Linked DNA regions of Homo sapiens. The protein of the gene in region 4 interacts with the protein of the main gene of each other region in a pairwise test. Each region holds a gene or a part of one and is shown on either strand. Other genes may lie near its edges. The genes, in order: PLEKHA1, SSTR3, PELI2 and MPDZ.

Region 1 (7,851 bases), on a different chromosome or scaffold from region 4:
CTGGGATTACAGGTGCCCGCCACCACACCCAGCTAATTTTTATATTTTTAGTAGAGATGGGGTTTCATCATATTGGCCAGGCTGGTCTTGAACTCCTGACCTTGTGATCCGCCTGCATCTCGCTCTCAAAGTGCTGGAATTACAGGCGTGAGCCACTGTGCCCTGTCTGGTAAGGGGAAGGGGTCTGAGGGTACAATTCCCCCAGGCCAAGGAGCTTGTGAAGCCCAAGATGGACTTGTTCCCAGATCCTCTCTCCCAGCTTTGTTTGCAAGGAGTCTTCACCTTCTAGAATGCTCCCTACTTCAGTGCTGCAATTAGCAACCCAAGTGTGGCCCTGGATGATCATCTTGATTCAGAAAATCTTGTTTTTCAAGTTTTCACACCACATTGGAGCAAGAGTCCGTATGTTTGGATGACAGCAAGCATCCTGTGCTCTGCAATTTTAGGGTTTACCACCATCCCAGGCCTGCCACATGTGGTCAGGGTAATTAATGTATGACCTAACTAGGGTGTAGATGCAGCTGGAACCCACCAGACCCCCAGAGATCATAGGGTTGCTGGGGACCTTTAGAACTCCAGTGGCTTTCAGCAACTTTAGATCCTGTCCAACCCAGATGTTCAGTGTTGGGCTCCCTTCCTTGTCTGATAATCCTAAGGCAGGAAAGACCTAGTTCTGCTCTCTACAAGTCTTGGAGGCAAGCATCTCCCCGGATGCCCAGTTTTTTGTTTTTTGTTTTTTGTTTTTTTTCCTGTGTGGGCCTGGAATTTGGGCTGGTTGCTGACTTTTTCAGAAATCCTATTCTTCCACCTTGGTAAGCATAAAATGTGGACAATCTTTCGTGGCACCTTCCTGAAGGAGGATTGTTCTGCCCCAGCCCTGGGATGCAAGAATTAGCTCCAGAAGGAGACTCCAGTCACCTGATTGGTAATCTGGGAAGGTCACTTAATCTGTGCCTGCTTGGGGTGATTACTGAGAATCATGCTTCCCCTCACTTGGTCATTGCCAGTTGTGAGGCAGGGTCAGAAAGCCAGCTCCGACTCTTCACCCACAGAAGCAACTCCACTGACTCGCTGCCTGGAGTTCTTGTGCCATTTTTACACTAAAAAATAGGGAAAAGCCGTTTTTAACTCTCTGCTACCCAGTTTCTGGAGGGGACACAAAAAGAACAAAGCCGGGTTCAGAGAGTGTTCAGTTCATGTTTAATTCTTGTTCTATCTTGGTTCTGATTTCTGGTTAGAACAGAGGTTTGCTTCTGGAGGTACTCCTTCTGCTTGGCTTCTGATGCTGGCTCTGTCCATAAAGGGGACTGTGGCATTCATCATTCAACACATACTTCTGTTGTAGGCACTAAGGATACAAGCAGGAACAAAACATAAAATCCCTGGCCACGTGGAGGTTACAGTTTAGAGGGATATGCAGAAAAAAAAATATATATGCACATATATAATATGTACAAAAGTGACCATTGCTAAGGGGAAAAAGATAATGCAGGAAATGCTGCAGACATCAAATATTAGAGAGGTGACTAGCATTCAGGAGCTTTCTGCGTGCCTCTGTACGCTGCTTTTTGTGTTGTCAGAGGGGCTGACGTCTGTCTGGAAGCCCCAGAGCCCAGCACTAAGCATATGGAAGGGGCCCAAGAGCTATTTTTGAATGAAACATCAACGTACTTCACACGTGCAAAGCATGATGATAATGATGACAGTGATACTTTAAAGGTAAACTGCAGGCTGGGGCAGTGGCTCACACCTGTAATCCCAGAACTTTGGGAGGCTGAGGAGGGGGGTAGATCACTTGAGGTCAGGAGTTCGAGATCAGCCTGACCAACATGGAGAAACCCTGACTCTACTAAAAATACAAAAATTAGCCTGTCATGGTGGCAGGCACCTGTAATCCCAGCTACTTGGGAGGCTGAGGCAGGAGAATCACTTGAATTCAGAGGCAGCGGTTGCAGTGAGCTGGGATTGTGCCACCACACTCCAGCCTGGGCGACAGAGCGAGACTCTGTCCCTTCCGGCAGAAAAAAAAAAAAAAGTAAACAGCTAAACTATAGATCCTTGAATTCAGACTCCTCCTTTTTCTTCAGATGAAAAGTAGCCATGGAATATTCCAGCATTCCTCAGTGCCTTCAGTGAGTCCTGAGTGTTCTTGGTTTGCTCCCAGACTGTAATTTCCCTGTACTATTTTTTTTTTAAATAGCACTGAAAGCACTGTTATGTAATAAACCTCTGCATCCAAAAAAAAAGAGGCTGGAAGAAAAGCAGAGAGCTTTTTTTTTTTGTCTCTGTATTTATTGGCTGATCGGGAGCTATGAAGTTCTGGTTATACTGCAACCTCAAAGCAGTCCTGGGATTATCTTGTTGTGTGTCCTTGGGCAAACTGAGTTACTTTTCTGGCTTTCTTTACTGTATGTAAATATGGCTCTCAATGATAAACAGTTTTGGGGACTTGTTATGCAAAAAGAACAAAGGAGCAATTTTTTTTTCTTGAGTCCCGTTCTGTCCCCCAGGCTGGAGTAGAGTGGCACGATCTCAGCTCACTGCAACCTCCATCACGTGGGTTCAGTTGATTCTCCTGCCTCAGCCTCCCGAGTAGCTGGGACTACAGGTGCCCACCACCATGCCTGGCTAAGTAGAGGGGGTTTCACCATGTTGGCCAGGCTGGTCTCAAACTCCTGACCTCAAGTGATCCGCCCACCTTGGCCTCCCAAAGTGCTGGGATTACAAGCAGGAGCCATCACATTGGCCAAAGGAACAATTTCAAACCACTCATCAATGATGTCAAACAACATTTAGGAGAGAGATCCGGCGGGTCCAGCCTGGAGAGGGTGAGAGGCTCTTGGCCTAAGTGTTCTATTCTCAGGACCAGTATTTTCAGATCAAATAAAAGATGTGAATTTGACTTTGAATTTCAAATAAACAAATTTCCCATCTGGAATCTTCTAGGATTCTAGCACTGACAAGCTAGAGACTCCTTCCAGACCTTCTAGCCAGGGAAGGCAAACTCAAATGCCTACAGGGATAAGACAGGTGACACCTAGATTTTTATTTTTAAATGTTAACCACACATTCAGTTAAATCAACAAAAACCCACTGTGTGGACCAAAGGAAACAATCTGCTCTGGCTACTTTATAAACTATAGTGAGGCCAAACCCTTTCAACCATTATACAGATGAGGACCCCAAAAGGGACAGATGTCAGCAAGGCTGCATAGCTAAGGTTTCTCAAAAGATAACCAAAATATCACGTTGGATGAAAGGCAATTGAAAATGCTAAGTCTCAAAGAGGCAGTCAGAGAGCCGTTCTATGCAGTTTGCAAGATGTTTTCACCTCCATCAATTTATCAGACTCTGAGAACATTCTGCAAGGCAGGCAGGGTGGATGACACTCATTTACAGTCGAGGTCACTGAGGGTCAGAAGGGCAAAGTGTCACTCTCTGCATAAAGTCACATAGGTAAGTCTACACAGGAAAATCTAGGGCTGTTCTTCACTACACCTCTGATTCAGATAACAGGTAGGCTTCCTCTAAGATTTTAATAAAGACAAACTCAAAATCCTGTATGATGCCCCATGAAGAGAAACAAGTCAGGAGGCCAGGCTGAGCCCCCAGACTTCTAACCCAGTTCGCAAATAAAGAAAGTGGCAAAGTAGATAGATTCCAGCCTGTCACCAGGGTTGTGTCTTCTGTCCTAGCAGCTGTACAGCTTGTCTTACCACTGGACATTTGTTTCATGTACATTTTCACATAGGAAGGATATTCTAAAAGATGTTGATAAAGATTTTTTAAAGGGTTTGAAGGGGATAGGATGTGATCTAAGGTTGTGCAAGGAGAGGAAAGGAAGAAGCACACAAAAAGAACAAATATTTATTAAGAGCCTAGAGTGGCATGCGCTGTGAAAGGCGTGGCATGTAATTCTTTCCCAGTTCTTTGCCTGTCTGAATATTTCTCATTCTTCAGGTTTCAGCTCAGATATCACATCCTCAGAGAACTTGCCTTGCCACTCTCTCTGAAGAGCCTCCCCCCGTCCCCGCCACCGCTACTGTCTCTTGAACTTTCTCAGTCTGGCCATTCTATTAAAATCTGGAACGATTTTGCTAGTTTGCGGACGAGTTTCCCCCAAGCTGCAGGCTCCATAAGGGCAGTGACAGTGTCTCTTTCTCAGATGAATGCCGGGTTGCCTATCGCGTACTTGGCACACAGTTAAGTGCTCGAGAAATTGCTAAACACTCAACGAATATTTACCAGAATACATATTTATGCTCCACCGTTGCTGAAAGAATTTCGACTAACCCTTCTTTAAGTCTCTCTTACCCTCCTGTACTATTAACACCATTGTAAGTAGGCAGTGGAGCTACATTTGCAGGGAGAGAGAAGAGCGAAAAATTGGCGCGCAGAGCTGTAAAGCGTTTTTCTCCAGGTCACACCGCAGCCTGTAAATTTGTGACACTTGGACCGATTATGGGACAGCTTGCAAACAAATTATCTGCAAACTAACGAAGCCTATTTTTAAAGATCCCTGTTCCTCGCAGCTCTAGGCGATGACATCAGAGAACCCGGAGTTCTACCTCCGAGCCAAGCCCAGTGGTGGTCAAAAACTACGAATACCAGGAAGCACCGCGGCGCGGCGGCCCAGAGCTCCGCGCGCAGGCCTCCCCGGCGCGCCGAGGCCGCCGCCGCTGGAACCAGGAAGACGCCAGAAACTCGGCCCGCCACGCCGCAGGGACCCGCGCGGGGCCTGCCGGGACTCGTAGTCTCTGCGGGCTGGGAGCGCCCGCTCCGGAATCTCAGCCGCCGTCTGAGGGCTGAGGCAGCGTGGGGACGCGTGCGCAGTGCGCGGGCTGGCCGTCGCGGACGCCGCTCCGGGCAGCCGAGCCTCTGTGGGAGCCGGGGCCGCGGCGGCGCGGGTGCTCCGGGCCGAGGCCGCGGTAAAGTTTAGCTTGAAGAACGCGGCCGCGCTGGAGCAGGGGTGGTGGACGGGGCCAGGCGCGAGGTGGCGGCGGCTGCGGGGCTGCCGGGCTGCTGGAGCGCGGTTCCCGCTGTGGCGAGCGGGGAGGCGTCCGCAGAGGGGCGGTGGGTGCTGGTGAGTGCGGAGCCGGCGCCCCCTCTGCGCACGTCCGCGCCACGCGCCACAGCACCTGGAGGCCGCCGGGCCGGCTCACCTGCCCTGGCTTGGGGCAGCGGGAGGGGGCGGCGTCTTCTTCCCGTGGGTCCCCGATTGTTTTCCCGACGTCAGCCCTCAGCGGCGCCCGGCGGGGGAGGGCGGGAGGCCCGCGGCGGTCGCGGGGCCGACGAGCTCCTCGGCGTCTCCGCCCCCCGAGAAATCCCGCTCGGGGCGCGGTGCGCGCAGCTGCCCGGGGATTCCCGGTGGCGCCGGTCGGAGCGCCTCCCTCCAGGGCTGTGCCCGCGGGGCGCGCGTCCCCGGGCATCCTTTCCTGGTGTTTAATGCATTTTGGCTTCAGGACTTGCCGAGGCCGAAGCCGGCTCCGCCCTGGGCCCTGAAGTCGGGCGGTGTCCGCGATTTACCTCCGCACCTTCGGGGCAGGTGGCCAGAGGCAGCGTTGAAAGCGACTTGCCCAAGGTCACGCAGGTGGCACCGGGGAGGCGACCAGACCCAGGTCTTTCGACGCCGAGGCCAGCTGCCAACCGCAGAGCTTTGGGGCCGTCTTGAGTGGTTTGTGGTTTGTTTCAGATGCTTTCTATTGACCTCCTGGAAAGAGGGGAAAGTGTGTCATAATGAAAGCGGTCCTGTTGCTTATAGTGTTTACCGCCTTTGGTAGAATTCTGGTGAGGCTGTGCCCCCGCGCAGAGCATCTACCGTGGTCTGGGCGTATAAATAATGAAACTCCTTTGCTCTCTGGGGGCAGTACAAGAAGAGGTTCAAGGAACAAATAAATATCCAGGCAGTTTCTGCGTTTTCCTCGTCTGTTTGTTTCACCTTCCAATTCTGCAGTACTGGTTTTCTTATTTTACAATTGATCGTTGTTTTAATAAGATTTTCTTTGTTTTAATGAAGTCATTGCCCCTTGTGAGTTAGTTTTCTAAATAGAAAATCTTATTTCCTGTGTGTTTAATGACTGGAACAAATAGTGCACTATGAGGTTTACACCATTGTCTTTCATCTTAGAACTCCTGATCAATCTGCTTTATTTTCCCAAGTACTCAGCTTGCATACTTTCTATGTTAATTTGATGCCACTGAAACCATTTACAGCAAAGTTTGGGTAAGAGTTATGTGATTGTTTTGTGAAACTGTGTTTTTCTTCACAATCTGAAGAACTTGAAGACCCGTTATATTAAAATAATAAGATTTATTCTGATCAAAATACCTGTTTACTTTTCATGCTCTTAATTTTTCCTGTTGACACACTTGTGGCAAAAGAAATATTTCCCCTAGTGGAGTTAAAGTATTTTTTATCTTGGCCAATTTTCCCAAGGAAAATTGCATTTTAGAGTACTGATACATTTAAAAAAGAGTATTTAAGTTTGACAGAATTTGAATTAATAAAGTAGTTAATTTATTTTATACTGCCGTAAACCTTACACTGTATCTACTGACAGTTTTCTCTTGTAGCGTATACCTGTATCAAGATATATGGCTGTGAATTTAGTGACATTAAGAAGATATATATATATATATATATATATATATATATAATATAAATATATGTGTATACACACCGCGCGGGCGCGCGCAGAGCTTCCAATCTTTATCTTGTTAATTAGTATTTTCATTGTCGCTTTGGGAGGGGGGAAAGTAGCAGGTTTGTATCTTTTTTTCTCCCCAGTTTTAGCAGTGTAACAAAATAGGAAAGATGGTGTGTAAAATTGAGTTTGTCATAGACTAGGAGAGACAGTGAAACAGGATAAGTATACAATTGTGAGGAAACTGCCATGAGTTCATAAGCCGGAAGGACCTTTTTAGAAGTGTTTAAGGATGTTAAGAATAGCATTGGATTCTTTTCTTTAAAAGTCATTCAAGTATCGTTTGCTAACATATAGGATATGACAATATTGACCACTCCTAGGAAGATACTTGGGAAAGGTGGAAACATTTTACATTTTTATGGGGACTTCCCCCCACAAAAAACATTTAATGGAGATTTAAACAAAGTGGCTTTTTGACTTAAGCCTGGAAGTTCTTTATTATTATTAGTCATGCTGCAAATCCCGAAGTTATTTTAATTGTGTGATAATTTGTAACCCAGAATGAAATCTAATAAATAGTTTATTAATATAATTTAAGTCATACTTTGACATTGACATATTGCTTGATGTCAAGTCATTATTGTTTAAATAACTTATTTGAGAATGGGGAAGATAGTTTTCTGAATATAGTGTAGTAATTATTTGTGACAATAGTAACATTGCTTTTATTAGAAAATTTTGGGTTGATATAACTAACTGCCTTAAAGTATTTCCTATTTGATTCCAACTGTGAGCTGAGGTAATATGCAAATAATTACTTTTCTCATGCTGGAGCAGTTTACTTTTGTTAATATTAAAATTTAAATTTCAAGATTAAAAAATCTTGTTTTAGATCTGCAATGATACAATAAAATGACTTCAATAGGAGTTAAATATTAAGATTTGGTTTTAGGTTTTTTGACCATTTGTGAGTACACATCCAGCATTTAAGAATTTATTGACATGGTGTCTGAAAGGAATGCTTTCAGAAAGGGCAGAAAACTTGGTAGCTTTAGATGATTGTTTATAATGCTTAATTATTTTTAGAAACATAAAAATATGGGATGTTTTTATGTAAACATAAAGCATCCTGTTATTTGTTATAGCACTAGAACTCTCTTACACTTACTGAGCAATATTAAACCATTTGACCCTAAGTAACTTT
Region 2 (7,401 bases), on a different chromosome or scaffold from region 4:
ATTGAACCACTGCACTCCAGCTTGGGTGACAGAGCAAGACCCTGTCTCAAAAACAAAACAAAACAAAACAAAAAAACCCCAAGGCCCCCATAAAATGAGAGAGTAAAACATCAAAAAGGAAGACATGGAATCTAAGGAACTGGATTCATACAGGAAAAAGCTGAAGGGAATCCCCAAACAACAATGGAGAGAGAATCTCGGGATGTCAGCTGCGCACAGGCCCAAGGGGCAGCTGGCCCAGATAAGAGGAGCTCGTCAGTCTCCAGGACGAAATCGTCCCTGAGGCTGGACTCTGGAAACTCCACTGTGTGGTTTTTACGAAGCTATAGGAACGTGTGGAAATGCTTAGTCCAAGAAATCGAAGATATTTTTAAAAACCAAAAAACGAAGCAATTATGAACTCCTGGCTGAGCAGGAAATAATATTTACATTGCATTAATCATGGGAACACTGGATATGCATTTAACCGAAACTCATATTGAGAAGATGGGGAGAAGGGGTGAGAGTGCGTAAGAAATGTAAACTTCTCCTGTACTGTAAGAGGAGTCAGTAGATAATGGGTAAAATTGAGGGATTAAGACATAAAAAAATCAATATGATATTTAGCGAGAAAGAGCTTAACTGAGGGAGCAATTGCCGAGCGGGTGGGATTACCTGTGGGATGGGGGGGTGGGAGGGATGGGGGAGGACTGCTGTTTTTTGCTGTTACAAACCTTTTCAGCGCTACAGTAGTCCACTTAGCGCAGTTTCAGTTACCTGTGGTCAACCACAGTCTAAAAATATTAATAGATTTTGAAAGAAAAAGAGACAGAGAGGTCACCATCATATAACTTCTGTTATGATATATTGTTATATTGTTTTATTGTATATTGTATTATTAATTATTGCTGTTCGTCTCTTAACTGTGCCTAATTTATAAGTTAAACATTATCTTTCTCCACCATCGTGGTGTGTGGTTGACTCCGTTTCTCGCCACAGCTTCTCACAAGACTTTCAGGATCAAGTGATTCCTGCACAAGAAACAAAAGCAAAATTGTCCCATTCCCCAGTGGATCTGTATGAAAACTGGTAATAACATCAGGTACAGCTCCAAAAGGAGATATTGGAAAGAACCAAGCTGGGTCTATAAGGAATTGAGCATGAGATGCTACACATATTCATGTTGTATCAAGGTTGTGATCATATTACCATAGCAAGCTGAAAATGTCACCACTATCTGGACAGCTGGACATGTTTGATTGGGAAGGTACTTTTTCTCTTTGTTCATATGCTCTGCACTAGTAGGCTGGGTTCAGTAATACATAGGTGAGATCTTTTATTTAAAAAAAAGTTATCAGCCTGTAATCCCTGCTACTCGGGAGGCTGAGGCAGGAGAATCGCTTGAACCTGGGAGGTGGAGGTTGCAGTGAGCCAAGATCGCACCACTGCATTCCAGTCCGGGCAACAGCGCGAGACTCCGTCTCAAAAAAAAGAAAAAAATTATCAGGCTGGGCGAGGTGGCTCATGCCTATAATCCCAGTACTTTGAGAAGCTGAGGTGGGAGGATTGCTTGAGGCCTGGAGTTTGAGGCTAGCTTGGCCAACATAGGGAGACCCTGTTTCTTTTAAAAAAAAAATTACCATGGGTATGTAAAACATCATACAGGAAAAAATAATAGCATATATATACAGGTTCACTATAATCCACGGATTCAGGCATCCACTCAGGGTATTGGGATGTATGCACCGAGGCATAAGGGGCATAAAGCGGGGACTATTCTACTGGTTTCTAAATTTACTTGCAAACAGTACTTTGATAAAATAAAAGCAAATTAAAAAATCATTGCATTACAGATAAGGAATCCTGAAGGAGGGAGTGTTGGAGAAGGGGAGGGCTCTGGAGAAGGCTGCCAGAGCAGGGGATGCCTAACCAGGCTGAAGGTGAAGAGGGGGACCCGGAGTGGCCTGCTAGGGACTCGCGGCACCGGTGAGTTTCAGATGGAGGCCCTGGTGCTTTAGAACGAGAAGAGGGCCGAGTGGCGGAAGCGCAGGCTGAGGCTCGTTACATGGGGTCCCTAGGCCGCGGTCGGGACTGTGGATTTTATTTGACGAGGAACAGGTGGCCATAGGAGGTTCTCAAGGAGGCAGCTGGGATGACTTATGTTTGTAATGGACTCACTCTCTCTGCTGAGTAGGGGGCGAGGGTGGAAGCAGGGGAGTACAAGGTGATGGTGGGGTGGAGGAGGAAAAACCCTTCTTTACTGTCTTAGGGTCTCTGGCTGGGCTGAAGAATTAAACTGACATAAGGCAGATCAGCAGGAGAAAAACATACAGATTTCATTTACATGTACAAGGGAGCCCCCCCGCCTCCCGCCCAAATGACCAAGACCCAAAGAAGTGACTAGGCATAAAGGCTTTTGTACCAGGTTGAACATAGAATGGCAATTGTGTAACTAGGAAGATAAGGATTAAAAGATCTGTTCATACAGATTTCTTTTGGCCTCGACTCTCCTTATCTGGTAATGTCTTTCCTCCTCCTGGCATAGGGAGGGCGTCTTTCACAAGGCGTTTTAGCTCCTGCTTTCAGGAAGAAAAGGGGAGGTCAGAGCCCCCTTTCTGCACCTGCTGTTTCTGAAGTGCCTTTAGTGCAGAGAAATCAATATGCCAGAGTGGTGTATTCTGGGGTGGCGTGTCCTGAACCCCTTCAGTGGCCTGGCTCAGACGGGAGCCTGTGGATGGAGAGCAGTGGACGGGTTCCAGGCTGGAGCAGTAAGGCTCGGTGCTGGGGAGGTGTGTGGCAGGGGGCACACTGATGAGCATTCACTCCTTTAACCTTCGCAAGAACCCCCAGGCCAGGCAGTCAGGTGTGTACAATCTACTGAAGGAGAAAACCGAAGTTTAAGTTCAGTGCACGGCAGGGGTAGAGCTGGGGCTCAAACTCCCCTGTCCAGTCTTCAGCCCCTATACCCCAACCTGCAGGAATAAGTGAATGAATACATGAGGCTGGGTACGCCTGGGGCACAGAGGAGCGAGTGAAATCAGCAGAGGAGGAGGCCCGCGCAGGCGGCAGGAATCAAGGATGCAGTGCCAGGTGGGCTGCGGCGAGAGAGCTTTATTCTGAGGGCAGTGAGAAGCCGTGGGTAGGGGTGGGTGGTCAGTGCCATGGAAAACCCACCCTTGACCCTGAGGACACGCTCCCAGGAGCCCACCCACACCTCATGAACTTGTACGGACAAGGACAATGGGAGGCTGAGACCTGGAGCAAGGGCCTTGTCCCGGGCACAAGGCAAAGGGACGGGCAGCGTTAAGAGACCAGGCCGGCTCCGGCTGGAAGTGGGTGTGTCCTACTGTGTGCTGCCGCATGCATGGTGGCACCTCTGGATGCATTCAACTTCCAGTTCTCTGCAGTGCCAGGTACCTAGTGACAAAGGAGGTCCAGCCCTGGTCCCAGGGAATGGCCCAGTTTGGAAAGCAGCCTAGGTACAGCCTGGCACATAGTAGGTGCTCAGCCAAGACGTGTGTCCTTTTCCCTTCCGTCTCTGACTGTTCCTTTCCTTATCACTCCTGTGCTGAGGCAGGAATCAGCACAGGCAGGGGCACGGCATCCCAAGACATCTGGGCCTGTGCTCAGGACTGTACGGCAGAGTCTCTTAGACCAAAGATCAGTAAATATGGCCCACGGGGCAAATCCCACCCACTGCCTGTTTTTGTACAGCCTAGGAGCTGAGAATGGTTTTTACGGATGAACATTTGCAATCGGTTTGATGAAACACTAACTCTAAACTCCAATTAAGCAAAAGGTGATGTCTGTAAAAAGAACTCTATTCTTCTCATGAGTGGACCTACATTACAAAATACTGGCCTCAATTATTATTATTCTATTTTGAGTTTTGTCAGTTACAAAATAGTAAAAATCTGTTTTCTCACTGCACAATGATTTTGCCCTCAAAGCCTAAAATATTGGTTCTCTGTTCTGTCCTTCCACTCCTCACCCTGCCTGGGGCTCTCCAGATGTAACCAATCCCAGGACTAATGACCCCCACCCGGCCTCCCCAGTGGTCCGTGCTGCGGCCGGTGTGCCCGACTGCAGGGCTGGACTGTGGACTCCCGGGCTGGCCAGCCCCACACCCAGCCTTGCCTTGGGACACAGCTGCTGCCCCGGGGGACCTGTGCCGCAGTGGCCTCACGAGCTGCTCTGGCTACTGGCTGGCAGCCTCGGCTCCCCTGAGCACTGAGCACATTCTTCTCTCCAACTCCCTGCAGGAGCCAAGGCCAGCGGGCGTGGGTGGCTGAAATCTCCCCGGTAACAGGGTCTGCGCCCCTCCTGCTCCCTCTCCGGGCCTCCTCCCTTAACCTGCACCCCGCCCCCACCCCCCACACCTGCTCTCCGGCCCTCAGCCCCTCCCTGCTTACTCCCTCCTTCACGGGCTCCATGTCACCATCTGTGGCACAGTCCCTCTCTGTCACTCTCCCTGCCACCCCCTCATTCTCCTTCCTCCCTCCTGCCTCTCTCTGCATCTCTCCCTCTCACCCGTGTCTCCTCTCCTCTCTTTCCTTCTCGTCTTCTCCCTGTCACGCATCTCTCATCACTCCCCCTCATTCTGCCTTTCCTCCTACTCACGGTCTCCTCTCCCTCTCCCTCTCTCTCTCTCCCCCTCCCTCTTTCTCTCTCTCTCTCTTTCTCCACCTCCTCCCGACCCCCTTTCCCCTCTATTTCTATTGGCTTCTGTGTCCCTTGCTCCCCTCTTCTCTTCCTCACCCTGGGAAGCTTCTCCCCCCTATCCTTGCCCCTGCCCCCCCAGGATGTGTCCTGGAGATGGGGGGTGACGTACCAGGCTCTGGTTGGGAAGTCAGGGCCGGAGACCAGATGGGAGAGGCTCTGTGGACAGCCGTGGCCGAGGGCCTGGGAGGGAACCTGAGCCCGCAAGCGGTCTAGAAGTGGGTGCCTTGTGGGGACCCTAGTTAGGAGTGCCCTGGGGGCACCTGGGGACTGGGCAGGGAGAGGGGACAGCAGAATGATAACCAGCCTGGCGGCAAGGAGGGAAGCCCTCACCCCATGGGCAGGTAAGGAGGCTGGGGCCCGGATGATGTCCCGAAGGGTGGGGTCCTGGAAGCCCATCCTCTGCCCAGGATGAACTTGGGAGGCTGGGGCTGGGGAGGCAGAGGGTGGGGACTCCCAGGGAGGCAGGAGGGAGGCCTTCCTGTGACCTCCCGGTCGGCTGCAGGGGCAGGGGCGTTAGTCTCAGAATCTCGTGCCATGATTCTAGGATCTCGGAATCACAGAATCGCAGGCTGTCAGGGCTGGAGGGAGCCAGATGTATCATGTCGTTGGCTTCCCCAGCTCACGTGGCAGCTCTCCTGAGCTCCCCCTCCATACCCGGCACTGTGCTTGGCACGCCTCCGTTTAATCTCTGCAAACAACCCTGGGAGGTGGGTCCGCTTGTCTTCCATATGACGAAACTGAGGTGCAGCGGGGAGAAGTGACTTGCCCGAGGTCACACAGCAATTTGGCATCATCGCTGTGCAGCAGAGCCCAAGCCCCCAGCGCTGGGCCTGTAGGGTGTGCTCCTGGGATCAGGCCCCAGGCCTGGGGTGCCAGTGAGTCAGTCGGCACTGGCAAGCATAAGCCAGGTGTCTTTGGGGGGAAGGCCGAAGCATGTAGAGGACAAGCAGAGAGCCAGGGGCCATCGCCCTGCACTATTCAGGACTGTCATGGCCTTTGATCCTTCTCAGCCTGAGGCCTTCAGAGGAGCCAGTGTGGCCAGGAGGTACTGATGGTTTAGAAGTAGATAGAACTGGGTTCGAATTCTGGCTTCCCACTCTCCAGCTGGGTGACCCTTTGCAGCTTACTCAACCTCTCTGAGCCTCAACTTCTTCCTCTCTAAAAACTCTCCCTCTTGGGCTTCTTGAGGATCTCATGATGTGAGTCTGAGGCTTCCATCCGGGGACAATGTCCCACCTTGGAGCTCTCCTTGTTGAACGGCTTGGCTGTTCACATTTATGGCTGTTCTGGGTGATGTCCTAGGTTCTGGGGTTAAGAAATAAATCATTCAGGGCCCCTGCCTTCAAGAGCCAGTGTTCTAGCGGGTGGGAGATGGGCAAATGGAGAATGATTGGGGTGCCTGGCCTCCCTGAACTGTTAGGGCTGTGCGGCTCAGGACAGCCACTCACCCTCTCTGTGCTGTCTCCTCCTGAACAGTCCTCCAAGGAGTCCGCCCCCAGCTTTCAGGCAAGCTTGTGCCAAAGATAAACCAGACAGGGAGGAAAAGTCCCTCCTTCTCAAGGATGAACTAGATCATGCACAGGATTCCAGCTCTAAAGAAAAGACGGCACCTCAATTGCAGGTCTGGCTTACGTGCGTGGAAAGCTGTAATTTCCCTGCTTCTGCTGCCTGGGCCCCTCAAACTTTGACAGGGAAGACCGGCTGAGATAAGGGTGGAGACAGGGTTTTCCAGGAGGGGGCCAGGGGTTCTGGGAGGGGCGACTGCATGCCCTGGTACAAAGGAGGGTCTGGCTAGGCACGCCGTGTTCCTGCCAGGACCATGTGTGTGTCAGCGCATGCGCTTGTGGGTGCACAGACATGTGCTGGGCAGGCGTGGGGGTGGGGCAACCTCAGAGCTTACCCCCAGCGGGCTACCCCAGGGGCATATGTCCCTGAAGCCTGGAAATTAGGCCTGCCCAGCTCCTTGCTTCTCTCAGGAGCCTGGTGCTCCCCTCCCTCATCTAGCCCTGGCTTGTGATTGGCTGACCAGCAGGGATGCTATAAAGAGGATCTGTGCACAGCACAGGGCAGCAAGGTGGATGGTGACGCGGGTCCCCTACCAGGGAGGCAGGACTCTAAGGTTCCAGGTTGCACAATTCCAGGTCTAAGAAGGACTCATTCTAGCATTCTGGAATTCTAACATTCTCTGATTCAAGGATACTGAGTCTAAAATCCTATGGCTGTAAGATTCTCTGCCTGTTCTAAGAATTCAAAATTCTATTTTTAGATCTCTAAGGTCCATTAGGCTTTGAGTCCATGATCCTCATAGCTCAAAGCCCTGGGGGCAACTGGGAAAGCGGATGCCAGCTGGGCACTCAGGTGGGTGCCTTCCCAGGCCTGGCTTCAGTTTGCCAGCCTGTGGAATGGGCGTAGAGGTGGTCACTACAGATCTTTCCAGATTTGCCCCTTCCTAGCTGTGACCAGAACATGTGACCTCACGTTTGCTCCCCATCTGTGCAGTGGGGATGACAGTAGTGCCTCCCTCGTAGGACATCATAGGATACTGCAGCTCACCAGCTTAGCCTGGCACCTGGCACAGTCAGGGCTCAGTGATGAGCAGCTGGCAGCACTGTTAGGATCCTCTAGCCCACTGTCCAGGTGCCCCTCCCTTAGTGCTGCTGTCCCAGGCTCAGGAGACCTGATGAAGGGTTGGGGAGAAGG
Region 3 (7,023 bases), on a different chromosome or scaffold from region 4:
GGAGCCTCATTGCCCAGATAATAAATTTGAACTCCTGGAAAGGATAATGTAAACCACCTAACGGAACCTGGCATATAGTATGCCCAGAGCTCTCGCCCACCATCCCGCTACACCCTAATTAATGATTTGTTGCTAAGTCATCTGTCTTGCCCTTAGACTGTGTACCCCTGGGGGGCATTTCCTTATGTAGGCTCCACCACCCCTAGTCCTCTGAAGTGAAATCAGCCTCGTAAAACAGCAACAACAGCATCACCTAACACAAACTGAATGATCAGTGTTTAGTGTGTATGTTTAGATAGTGCTTAATTCCTAGTATGTACAGGCAATCCCATTTTTTTTTCTTCATCTTAAAGTTCAGGGGTCCATGTGCAGGATCAATGAATCCCATTTTTAATATACCCATGCAGAACACACATGCAATAAAATATATACATACACACATGCATCTCAAAATTCTTAGTGTAATTTTAAGCTTTAAAAACAACAAAATTATAAAAGCAACAGACTTAACATCATCTGGAAGTTCAATTATTTAAATTTCTTTTACACTCAGTTGATCAATTTTGAATGCAAAAGTTTTGATTTCACATCTTTTAGTCCCTCTCATTAGAAATGAAAAATGCTAAAATTCCCCAAACAGAATCTGGGGAAATTTCAGAAGTTACGTTCACTTTAGCTACTAGAGGAATGTTTTCATTTTCTTTCTATGGCAAAGTGTTCAATCTGGAGGCAGTAACCAGTGGATTCTAGGCCTGTAGCTCTCCCAACCCTGAGTGCTGTGCAGGTGGCTGGCAGCAGTGGCTGCTATCAAATTTTGTCTCTCTTTTGTAAACTGCACCACACAAGAGCCATCTTCTGCCTTGGCTTGCTTCTCACCAACACAGAACTGTTCTCCATGGTGTGGAGGAGACATAAAGTATTTCAGGAACTGTACTACCTTCTTACTGCCGACAGTCACAGACAGGTACAACCAATATAAATGAGCTCTTCATCCTGTCCTTTAACCACCCAAATGCAGTGTTAAAACATTCTTCTGGTCCTTCCACCATCCTGTACCTGCAGGATGCTTGTATAGATTACCCCACCTACTCGAATCTCTGTTAGTTCTGTTATTTCATGTCAGGTGACCTTTAAAAGCTTGAAAATCTGTGTCATGCATTAGCTCTCCTGGGTGAAAGCTGCTTATGTTCCAGTCTGCCAGAAGCATGGTTCTCAGTAAGCTAGGCTATTCTTCAACTGCCACGCTCTCAACAAATTTCAGATAATATTGGAGATTAACAAATGCAAAAAGACTTGCAGATGACTTATAAATTATAAAGCCACTCCAAAAATGCTTTTGTTAGCTAAGATTTTCAAACCGTACAGTACTTAATGTTTGGAATAACTCATCAAAAAGGCTGAAATTGTGCTCACTAGAATGATCAACAACCCGAGGAGACAAAAAACAACTCAATAAAAACTTAATGAATTTATTTCCTATCAGTCTTGTCAGGTTGCATTTTGAATTCTATCCACAGCATGTGATGAAAGTACCCAAACCATAATGTAATCTTATGTACTACATCAAGGATCTAGTCAGCATAATTTTCTGGGATCTGGTGTGAAAGCACACTCCTTTGTGTCTACAATCCTTCCGCAGGAAGGGCCTTTCCCCAACGCAATCAATCAATCAATCCATCAATCAATCATCAGTCCAGAAAAGCCTAATTGCTCACCCATCACCAGTTCTGATTATAATTAGTGTTCTATAATCATGGAGCAGGAAGCACAAGATGGGAAAGGAGGGGGGCCACCGAGGTCCTCCGAGGCACTTGGTAATCACGATCAGCCGTTTTATACCAATAGCCTAGAAGCCAAACACACAACTGCTCGCTCTGGTTAAATTCTGTTAAACCAGTACTAATAAGAATGGAAGTACAAAGCTTGAAACAATGATTTCTTATCCTAAAAACAGATTCTGCATGAGCAGAAAAGCAGGGATAAGCAGAGTGAAGTGTTTGAGAGTGAGAAGCATTATGCGGATGGCTAGAAAGAAAACCTCAATCGAGAATGACTCGCAATAGCCTTAAACCTGCTGCTGAAAATGCCCCCTGATGCATATTTATTAGGTCTGTCATCCAAGAGGCTTGTATGCCACAGTATTTCCAGCCATCATTAATAGGCATTAATGACCACAGCCTTTCAACGCCACTGTGGCGCACTGCAATGCAGCTCCGAGCAGCTGGTGGAATCAGAACAGATGGCCTGCTTCCCTTCAAGGCAGGACTTTCTGCAGGTGACAACATGACTGCTAGGTGACTGACAAAAAGAAAAACAAACAAAAGTTGAAACTGGAATATCTGATGTCAGTAAAGCACATGTTTAGTTTCTCAGGGAAACTTTGACTTGGGCCCTAAAGGTTGGTAGGATTGTTTACAAAACTGCAGTTGTGCTACAGAAGCAGAGTGCTCCTTCCAAGTCCAGAAACATTCACTAAGCCCTGGCCACATCTCCATGTGGGGTGGCAAACTAGGGTGTGCCACAGAAATCCATTTCTCCAAGAGGCTCAGTGAGTACCTAACATGCACCAGAAAGGGAAGCCCAGCATTCCAAGGAGGGGGGAAGTCAAGGTTCCTACCCTCAAGGGGCAATACGCTCTGGTGGAATTCAATGGCCACTCTGGGCACATGGCAAGCAGCACAGAGGGCAGAACCACGTTTTTGTCCAGGGATACTTAACTATCTGCCCTTGTATTTGTTTACACTTCTATTTTTCCCTTCAGTAAATTGCTTATATACGTTGCCTCTTAACGGGATACTTGGAATCTTCTGATTGAAAGAGCAGAACCCACTCAAGGTGGCTTAAACAGAAAAAAAAGTAAGTAAAAACCGAAAGAAGTGGGGACTCTCAAAGGACACAGGACTATTTTCTCGGAAAAGCTTTTCCTGATTATTTTGTCCAAAAGGATCCCCCACTACCTTATCCCTAGCATTTCACCCTGCCAATTCACCCCCCCCCTGCCCACCCAATAACTCTCTTCCTCCTTATCCTGCTTTAGTTTCCTCCCAGCAGTCTCTGAAGTTCCATTTTTTATCTACTCCTTTGCTTGCTCACCTCTCTCAAAAAAAGGTAAGCTCCAAGCAGGCAGGAAGGGCAGCTGTCTGTCTTGTTTGCTGGTGTAGCCCAGGGCTGGGAGCAGTGCTGGTCCTCAGTCAGTATCTTGAGTCACTGAATGAATGGTCAATCACACGAAACTAGGTCTCAGGAGGTACCCGAACCAGGAACTAGAAGCAAGACAGCTGCCCTCTAGCTCACACTCCATTCTCTCTCTGCCTTGTTGGGCTGCAGCCTCAGTTTCTCCTTCCAACTCCACTGTGCCTTCCAACTCCACTCTGCAAAGAGCAGAGGGCTTTCTTCACTCCCATCTCATACTAGCAAAACCCTGAGACAGTCTCCTGTGCTCTTAGGGTAAAGTCCAAACCCCTTCCAATATCTTATAAGCCCTTCATGATATCCCCCCATCATCATCCCTCACAATGTTTCATTCAATCATTCTTTCCTAGCCATAAAGAGTGTTTCTCTGTTCCTCAAAGTAGCTGCACGTTTTCATCTCTAGGTTGCAGAATACTCCAAACCTTCTTCGGAAAGCACTCCTTCCCTCTTATCTCCATCGTGGTCATCCCCATCTCATCCTGGCACATGGCTAGGGGACCCTGCTAACACATCCACCATCCCAGCCTTCAGGTCTTCCAGCTAGGCTGTCAGTGCTGCAGCAGCAGGGACCATGACTGTCTTGTTCATCTGCGTATCCCTTAGTGCAATCCACAGCATCTGACAAGTGGCAGATGCTCAAATATTTGGGGAATAAATAAATGAACCATGTATCAGTAACGGTTATTCACAAAGAGGCTGGGACAAAAATAAGAGAGCAGTTCACCAGGAAAAGGAATGTGTCTGCCTTGTCCTAGCTGTATTCCTCATGCCTGGAAGAGTAGACAGCCAATAAATATTTGCTGAATGCATACATTCCTGGCTTGCCTGATGTAACTCCACCCCTTTCTCTCCCACTTGAGAAAACACATCAGAATGCAAAAGGGTGAAAAATGACATTATTAACATGACATATCTGAATCATTTGAAAGATCCACACTTTATTACTTGTCATAAATTACTGGCCACATACCCTCAAGACTGATCATCACATATGAGGTACTTGAGACAGTGGTTGAGAACAGGTGATTTAGACAAAGCTAAGAAATATGAAGCACTTTCTGCTCTTATTATTTTATTTTCCAGAAGATGAAGGTGACAATAAGCTCAGTAAGAACTAATAACTGAATTATTCTAACCTTTACTTTTCTTTTTATAAAATAGATTTCTGCACACCCCAGGAGAAACGTTTAATTAAATCAAAAGACATTATAAATTCCTTTTCACAGTTATTTTTCTCCCATACCAATGAGGTCTACCAAGTTGCTGTTGTCTCCATTCAAAAGCCAACCTACAACCCCATATACCTACTTTCAGGAAGGCCACACTGCAAGCCCTGCACAGCAGATATAAAACCAGTGCTCCAATGTGACAATATTGGTCTTCCTCAAATATAGCAACGGCTATTTTGTTTTGTTTTGGTCCTTTGTGCATAAGTATTTTATCTTTTCGATAAAATGTTTGGTAAAATTACTGAACCTGAATCAAGCCTGTTTTACTTTCATTTATACACAGCATCCCCAAATATTGATCACAGGATGAAACACAACCAGAAATGAAAAGACCTAATGAAGCTTTCAGTCTTGGTGTGTTAAAGAGAGAAATAAATAAATCTGAGAAAGCCAGACCAGAAACCACACAGCAACACAGACAGCCACATATTCCAAACAAGGCTAAAGTTAGTAAAGGAAAATATAGCAACTCAAAGCCAGTAACACCGTAACCCTTAATAGCCCACAGAATTAGACACTCCATCCACACAAACAGATCTGAGCTCTTCAGATCACCCCACATGCTGAGCTACAGTAAAGATTTTGTTTTATAAATTTTTTTAAAGTTCAAAGACCTTTTAGTCTATAAAAGATACTAATGTTTGATGTCTTTGGGCCCAAATTAGAGTGGAGGATGAGAAAAGGAAAAGTGTTAGGGTATATTTGAAGGTTTCTTATTGCCACCAAAGGGTGGAGTAGTCAAGGCAAAGTGCTGAGGTTACAGCAACAACAAAAAGCATACAGAAAGTGGGACCTGCTTTTAAAAAAAAAAAAAAGACCATAAACTCTACAAGCTACTATACCCCTCTTTGTCTTACCTAACAAAACACTGAATCATCCAAAGGAAATGAGGCAGGTATCTACCTCCTTTTGTAGAGCTTATCAATTTCTACTAAAATACTTCATTTTTCAGTCATATTTAGTCATATTTATAAATTTTCATTTGTAGAGGTTCTTACCCTCTTTTTGTGCCAAGAATCCCTTTGGCAGTTTGATGACATGTAATGAGCCCTTCTCAGACTAATGTTTTTAAACATACAAAATAAAATACAAAGGATTACAATTGGAATCACTTATACTTAAATATCAAAAGTCTTAAATTGCTATACACATGTGCACTTCTGTAATAATGCATTAAATAACAAAATCTAGCAGCAAGTCTTTTTGTTGCCTACACTCATAAGTGAATGAAAATGCTAAACTGCAGTTTGAATATCATGAAAATCAAGACATGTTTTTCCCCCATCTAAGTTCAAGAATGTCCCGAACTCCATCTGTGGACCCTAGGTTAAGAACCCTTGGTTGAGAGAGCCAATAAAAATACATTTTGTGAAGCATCAAAAGAAAAAAAAAAAGTCTTGCAAAATGCATTATCCATTCAACTGTGAGGTGAGAGGAACTAAGAGAGTAAGCAATATTTTTCCAAAAACCACCATGGGCCATTAGTCAGCAAGAGAGCCACATGCTTCAAATTGAATCCAGAAAGGATGCTTTGAGGAACTGACAGCGCTGCTGGAATCTGTCTTAAAGTGAGGAAAGGGTAGAGTAGGGGAGTACAGCCACCCAGCTCAGCCCAGATCAACTATGAACTTGAACCTCTCTTGTTCTGGGAGCCTGTGTCCTCAAGAATAAAATATAAGGGCTAAACATATACCATGACCATTAGGCCCCCTTCCAGTCCTAATTTTTTTTTATTATACTTTAAGGCTGGAATACATGTGCAGAATGTGCAGGTTTGTTACATAGGTACATACGTGCCATAGTGGTTTGCTGCACCCATCAACCCATCATCTACATTAGGAATTTCCCCTAATGCTATTCAGTTCTAAATTTTTATCATGAGATCATCTCCTCTTTATGCTGGTTATTTCAGTCTATTTAGCTAAATTTCAAAACATCACTGTCTTTCTTAAACTTGGAACATAAAGTTTTACACAATTTAAATGCTCCCATGGGTAACCTAACACCAATGAGTCAAACAGATGTATATCATTACAACTTTTTTAAACATTCTGTTTTTACGCACATCTTCATAAAAAACAACCACAGCATTGATCTTTTCTGCTATTAAAACAACTGTCAGGGAACTTAGAATATGTAACTAAATAGTTTCTACATTTGCGCCAATGAACAGAATTACTGAGCACAGACCAGGAAGGGCTCTTGAAGCCTACCTAATCCAATCATATTTTGCAAATTGATAAAGAAACAGAGAGGAGGAGGAGGAATTAAGCCAAAGTCACAGAGCCAGTCAGCAAGAGAGAAGGGCTTATTCAGGTCACCCACCTGTAAATGCATGTTCTTCCCACTATACCAAACTGCCTCTCAAATCCTGAGCCACTTCCCTAACCTTAAAACGTAAGTTTAAAATTATAGCAAAAAGACCTGCTGGTTAGACCAGTCATTTTTCTCTACCTTCAGTTAAGTAGTGGACACAACAAAGAGTTGTGGCTATGATACATTAACTGGCTGGAATCATGAAATAATTAAATTCCACTAATCAGCCCAGAAAGTGATGAGCTCACTAAAATCCTAGCTATGTGGAATCTCTTAATAATACTGT
Region 4 (7,023 bases):
TCCTAGAGAGAACCCTGTAGTCCTCTGCCAGCAAAGAGATGTTACTGTCTAAATCCGCTGATAAGCTTGTCAGTCATTGGTAGTCCACACTGCTGAGAATACACTAAGAAAATTCAGCAAGAAATGACAATTTACATCTTGCTGGCAAGATTCCAGGTAGTTCAGATAAGGGAAAATTGCATGAAGAAATCCAAATTACTATGAACCTATCTGAACACGTACCTTAGCCATATAAGATAAATAAGCATGCAGCAATTCGATCTCCTAATTACTAATTCACAGATAATGTAACAAGCTACACTATTTAGTTACCATATGTAATTCTATAGGATTCATTGGGGTTATCTTGACAAGTGATATTTTCTCCATGAAAGCATTTTAAAAGGGCTTATTCTTTCAATGAACGTGACTATTTGCTTCTTAATTAACTCATCTACTATTTAAATGCCTCCATTAACTGCTTTTTACTCTGGCACTCAAAAGACTAAACATTAATATTAAGAGCACAAACCAACTTTTACTTTCGTAATAATCCAGAAAGGACATCTGCTTTAAATGTTGTTTTATTTATTTTGTTCGTCACTTCAATTAAGTGATCAGAAGGTACAGACAATATATAAACATTACAAATGACCCAAAAAAGGCTGAGTGGTTCCAGCCAACATAACAGGTTTTCATAACAGAATGAAGACATCTTATTTCTTGATTTCATCTGACCTTATAGCTTAGCTGCATGAGCTAAAGCTGTGTTGACCAACACAGTAGCCAGGAGCCACACTGAAACACACTACTGGGCACTTACACCTTGGCTAGTTCTAAAGGCAATATGATAAAAGACATGGGTAAAAGACATGGCATATTTTGGAGAGCTTTTTTTTTTTTTTAAGAAAGTAAAATATCTCAACAATGTTTACACTGATTATATTTTGAAAGAATAATTTGAAGAAACTGGGTTAAACAAAATATATTATTAAAATTAATTTCACCTACTTCTGCTTTTTTCTTCACTGTGGCTACAGACAACTTAAAATTACATATGTGGCTCACATGATATTTCCATTGGCCAGAGCTGATCTAGAATGATGCAGATCTTCCCCTCTCCAACTCTTGGGGTGTTTGATGATCTGAATTGTAACATATACAGAATGGCAATTATTTGAATAATTTCAGCACCAAATTACTCCTTTGTTATCCAATTCACTATATGACTGTCATATACATTTGTCACAGGAGTGACAGATCTATCAAACATGGTAAGAATTACAGAAAACATGCAAGTGGGTGAGGAATATTTAGCAAGCAGTCAAAATAAAGCATTGGGTTCAATACTGAAACTACTGTGCTGTGCTTAAACTCTTCATACGGTAGGATACAAAAGTTTATGGAAAGCCTCAATAATCTCCTGACTTTTTACTTAATCATCTCCTATCTTTCAAAATTAAATATTTTTAAATCTTTTTTACAATTACCGGTAGTATTTTTTAAACTATTGACTTACATATTTTGTAGCTCCAACATTTAAATAAGGGCCTTTAAATTTTCTATGTTATGTTTATCAAAATGGGGCATGAATTTAAGAAGACTGAGAAACACCATCAAATACAAAAGTCGGACTCACACAGTTGAATCCAAAGGGGATCAGAACATGCCACTCCAAAATATGCTACTTTGGCATCAGTATTATTTTGAACTGAAGGCAAATAGGAAACGGAAGACAGGAGCACTCTCTCCCCTGGCCCTTTCTGTGTAAAAGTAGAACACAAAATTCCCTTTGTAAATGTGACAGAAATGTCCGTTTGTAAAGATGATCATCTCTCCCTTACCAGTGAGAACAACTTTTATCATGAAAATGATGCAAAAACCCCAAATCTATCCTCTTCTTTGGGTCTCTTCTTTTCTGCGTAGCCCCCATGAATATGAAATTAAAAACATCAATTAAATGTTAATCTGTGTTCTGTTAGTTTTAATTCACAGGCCTCACTTATAGAACCTCAAAGAGTAAAATTTTTCCTCCCTCACAAAACCAAGAATGAATACGCACCATAAGACAACGGAAGTGCAGGAGAGTTCTAAATGACTTAAAAACTCTTTAATGGTATATCCATGCAATGACTACTACTCAGCAATGACCAGTACTGAACTATGAATACAGGCAACATGGATGAATCCCAAAATAATCACATAGTGAAAGAAGTCAGACAAAAGAGAACATACTGTATGATTCCATGTATTTAAAGCTCTAGAGAACGCAAACTAATCTACAGTGACATAAAGCAAATGAGTAGTTTACTTGGAGATGGGAGGGGTGGGTAGAGGAAAGGACTACCAAGATGCATGAGGAAACTTTCGGGGGTGATGGATATGTTCACTATCTTGATTGTGGGGGATAGCTTCAAAACAGCCAAAATTCAACAAATTGTACACTCTCAATATGTGTAGTTTATTGTCAATTATGACTTATACCACAATAAAACAGTTAAACAATTATAACTTATACCACAATAAAACAGTTAAACACTCCCTCCCACCTCCTTGAGAAAAGGATAGGGGCTGAATAGGTTGACTTTAGCATCCAACAGATGTTCACTGAACATCTTAATGAAGCTAGCTAGGGAGCAATAACCCAGGCCCCAGGGCTATTTCTTCTCATTTTCCTCCCTCAGCCAAAGAGCTAAAAATACTTTGTGACTTAGTCTAACCCGATATATATTCAATAGATTAAATCAGAATGAAGAGCCATTCCAATGCTATAGTTTTGTAAAACAGCATAGGATAACTGCATTTCCTAGCCCAGAAAACTGTGAATGTGATGGGAAAGGGTTGGAAGGGTCAGACAACACTCCACTGAATCATATCGATGAGGCCCCTGTAATCCCAAATTAGAAAATGAGGCCGAGCGTGGTGGCTCACTCCTGTAATCCCAACACTTTTGGAGGCTGAGGCGGGGAGATCACCTGACCTGAGGTCAGGCGTTCAAGACCAGCCAGGCTAACATGGTGAAACTCTGTTCCTACTAAAAAAAAAAAAAAAAAAAAAGAAGAACAAAAGAAAATGAATGCTGTCCAGAAGTGGATTCAGGCCTGACTTATTAAAATGCAATACCCTGGGACACTTGTGGGGAGTGAGAAGCCGAGGAGGAAATACATAAGCTTTATGAAATTTACCCAGTAATGCCTTAGACAAAGCAAGACCTATTAAGGGGGCTGCTATGGTCTGAATGTTTATATTCCCCCCAAATTCATATGTTGACATCCTAACCCCCAAAGTAATGGTATTAGGGGGTGGGGTCTTTGGGAGGCAATTAGATCACAAGGGCAGAGTTCTAATGAATGGGATTAGTGCCCTTATAAAATAGGTACCAGAGAGCAGCCTTGCCCCTTCCATACCATATGAAGACACAGCAACACGGCATCATCTATGAGGCCCTCACCATTCACAGAATCTGCCAGTGCCTTGATCTGGTACTTCCCAGCCTCCAGAACTATGAGAAATAAATGTATGTTTATAAGGGACCCAGTGTTTGATATTTTGTTATAGCACCCGAAATGAACTAAAACAGGGGCCTAGCAAGGTATAAGAGAAACTGGACATATCTTAAATATATCGGAAAGGAGTTTTTAAATTGTAGAATAATCTTTAATCTTTATGACTCTATCATCATGGTTTTGTTACGTTAGTGATATCTTATGAACACAGAAGGATAGCTTCTCATGACCATTTTCTATGACAGTTCCCTGAAGCAAGGTATCCTATGGAGCCACCTGAGTACACAATATAAAGTTACTGTGAAATTAACAATATAGTGAATTGGTTAACAAAGGAGTAATTTGGTGCTGAAATTATTCAAATAATTGCCATTCTGTATATGTTACAATTCAGATTATCAAACACACCAAGAGTTGGAGAGGGGATGATCTGCATCATTCTAGATCAGCTCTGGCCAATGGAAATATCATGTGAGCCACATATGTAATTTTGTCTGTAGCCACAGTAAAGAAAAAAGCAGAAGTAGGTGAAATTAATTTTAATAATATATTTTATTTAACCCACTTTCTTCAAATTATTATTTCAACATATAATCAGTATAAACATTGACTATTAACACTTAATTTTAAGCAGAAATCAAAATTTTTTAAAATACGTTCTCCACTGGTATCCTACATGCCACGTGGTAGTGAACTGTATCATATCTCTTCAAAAGACCTGAGACATCAGTTCAAACAAATGCTATTAGTATCAACTCAAATTATATAACATTTAATAATCTCAGATCAGATGATGCTCATTTAGAAAGGCAGCAATTGGTGAAATCTATTGATCAACAGCTGCTCTATCCATTTGTTATATCAAAATAACTTAAATATCTTCATTTTCAAAATATGTGTCTTGGGGATTTTCTTGTGGGAGTGGTATCTGGGTGATCTAATTACAGGCAAGCTTTCCGTCTTCTTTTCACTTGTATCTTCCATACCTTTTAAAATGTGCTATTTACTAAAATAAATAATTACCTTATGTATTTTATTATCAAAATAATTTTAAAACATAAGCAACAACATTAAGTTTTTTCTTAATTTTTTTTTTTGGTAGTTGATGTTACTGGGTTTTTTTTCTTCTTTTTTAATAAATGTTTCATTTTTCACTTTCCCCTCATGCACTTATTTATAGCACCTTGGATCTGGAGGCAGAGTGGTTTACAAGAAAATAACAATGAATGTTGCTTTTGCAGACACAAATAAAACTAAAAAGTGGATAAAGATAAGAATTCCCTAAACAAAACAAATTTAACCACCACAGGCAGACAGGCCAGAAGAAAAAAAGTAAGAGTTTGTCTCCTTTTATTTATTTATTTATTTTTAACTTAGCTGGCCAGATTGGGAAGAATGGCTCTAATGGTTTCATTAACTCAACAAATAAAATTGCAACACCTAAAAAACAAAAAAAAAAAAAAGTTTTTATTTTATGTAACATAAATTCCCTTTTATTAATCATATTTTCCCAAAAGGGGGAAACATTTCTGAAGGAAAAAAGATTATGCCATACATTACCCCACAAAACACGTATAAGACAGACAGTTTTTAGATCAATGGAATTTAAAGAATAAATTCTGTTGTTTTAATCAGACTCAAAAACCACTGAGACATTTACAACACAGTGTTTCAGCTTTGCCAAATTTAGCGCTTTACTATTTTTAAGAACCATTAAAAGAAATATTTTAAGAAAACGAATGCTTTTATAAAACACTTAAAAAAAAAATTAATGCTCTGTCCACAAAAAGGCCACAGAGGCACAATTTCCCAATGAACATCCAGAGAAAGAAAATAAGTGGCCTCAGGCCAAAGATAAAATACCTTTGTCCTCAAATAGCAGCTTCCCTTTCTTGCCAAACATCAAATTACCCCAGTAATGCTCAGACTATGCACTAGCCTCCAATACGAGCTCACTGCCTCAGAGTCTCACTAGTTTACACACTAAGTCTCTTTGAGAACCTTGTTATGAGCTAAACTGTGTCTCCTAAAAATTCACAGGAAATCCTAATCCCTGTACCTCACAATATAACTGTATTTGGAGATAAAGGTTAAATGAGGTCACTAGGGGTGGGCTCTAACACAATATGACTGGTTCCCTTATAAAAAATTAGGCTATAGACATACACAGAGGGAGGGCATGTGAAGAAACAGGGAGAACTCAGCCATCTACAAGCCAAAGAGCGAGGCTTGGTAGAAACCAATCCCACCAACACTTTGATTTTAGACTTCCAGCCTCCAGAACTGTGAGGAAATAAATTCCTGTGGTTTCAGCCACCCACTCTGTGTTATTTTGTCAAGGCAGCCCTATCAAACTAATACAGATTTTGGTACCAGGAAATGGGGTGCTGCTGTAACAAACACCAAAAATGTGGAAGTGGCTTTGGAACTGGGTAATAGGTAATGGCTACAAACGTTTTAGGGTGCATGTTAGAAAAAGCCCAGATTGCACTGAAGAGGTTAACTCTCAGAAGGAAATGTGACTTGGGTTATTGGAAAGTGGAAACTTCAAGAGATAAAAGTCAGCCTATACTTCATTGCTCTCCATTAATTGCTCTTCCCTATCCAACCTTTTCCCCTGGGCACAAATCCTCTATTCCACTCCAGAAATATACAAATTGAATATGCTCTCCAGTACCCACTGCCCACTCACATCCCAGCCTCTTCTATACATGTCCATTTTCAAGGGAAAACCACTGACTTAAGCTCTACTTCATATCAAAAAAACTTTCATTTCCACCCTCTCATCTCAAGACCAAAGCCTTTCTGTGTCTTATTTACTAACCTCAATGATAAGAGCAACTAATCCCTATACTTCACTACTTTCCTAGAATCCCTGTAACATTTTTAACATGTAAAACCTTTCTGTTATTTCTCCCATTAGATTCCTCCAACTAAGACCCTACACTTCTGGAGCAGAATCATGTTTATTCTGTACTCTCCCCAATGCCTAACCCAATACAACATTCTTCCTAATCCATCTATTACTACCTACTACATGAATACCTCGGATCTTCTCTGGAAACGTATCACAGGAAGGCAATGGATTCCTCACCACTGGTTTCCTTTATCGAGAAGTAGTTATTTACCTCCTTAGTCTTATTCTCCCACATGGAATCCCACTAAAATTATTTAATCACAGTATATCAATTTTACCATGCTAAATATCATTTCCGAACTGTACTTATATAAATGCTCTCCTATGCATGACACTAATTTACAAGAAAAAATGAAACCTTTATTGTTATAAATATGGGGTTGATAATGTACGTAACAATATCAAATGAAATCCTACTTTAGGCCAAATATCTATTTTCAAAAGTACATACAACTGTTTTGGACATATATCATCACTCATACGCACCATCAAGCAGTCCTAAATTCACCAGGAAGTTGTCTGCTTCTTCTCTTTAAAGTGTAGGATCTTTCTCTGGCAGATGTGCTATTTGCTCTACCATATTTGGGGACATTCCAGTCCAACTTTGCCTCAAAATATTTC

What was found.
Region 1: the proteins of MPDZ (region 4) and PLEKHA1 interact in binary tests that used the Homo sapiens proteins (3 or more experiments, as listed by UniProt).
Region 2: the proteins of MPDZ (region 4) and SSTR3 interact in binary tests that used the Homo sapiens proteins (3 or more experiments, as listed by UniProt).
Region 3: the proteins of MPDZ (region 4) and PELI2 interact in a two-hybrid assay, tested with the Homo sapiens proteins (one study listed by BioGRID).

What each region holds. Positions count from the first base shown.
Region 1 is NC_000010.11:122,369,879-122,377,729, forward strand, and holds the start of PLEKHA1 (pleckstrin homology domain-containing family A member 1), read left to right. Parts: upstream 1-4,829; 5' UTR 4,830-4,928; exon of another isoform or gene 4,929-5,083; intron 5,084-5,462; exon of another isoform or gene 5,463-5,681; intron 5,682-5,699; exon of another isoform or gene 5,700-6,223; intron 6,224-7,851. UniProt on the Homo sapiens protein: Binds specifically to phosphatidylinositol 3,4-diphosphate (PtdIns3,4P2), but not to other phosphoinositides. May recruit other proteins to the plasma membrane.
Region 2 is NC_000022.11:37,209,466-37,216,866, reverse strand, and holds the start of SSTR3 (somatostatin receptor type 3), read left to right. Parts: upstream 1-4,389; 5' UTR 4,390-5,042; intron 5,043-6,177; exon of another isoform or gene 6,178-6,322; intron 6,323-7,401.
Region 3 is NC_000014.9:56,121,391-56,128,413, reverse strand, and holds part of PELI2 (E3 ubiquitin-protein ligase pellino homolog 2), read right to left. Parts: intron 1-7,023. UniProt on the Homo sapiens protein: E3 ubiquitin ligase catalyzing the covalent attachment of ubiquitin moieties onto substrate proteins. Involved in the TLR and IL-1 signaling pathways via interaction with the complex containing IRAK kinases and TRAF6.
Region 4 is NC_000009.12:13,269,686-13,276,708, forward strand, and holds part of MPDZ (multiple PDZ domain protein), read right to left. Parts: exon of another isoform or gene 6,889-7,023; intron 1-6,888. UniProt on the Homo sapiens protein: Member of the NMDAR signaling complex that may play a role in control of AMPAR potentiation and synaptic plasticity in excitatory synapses. Promotes clustering of HT2RC at the cell surface.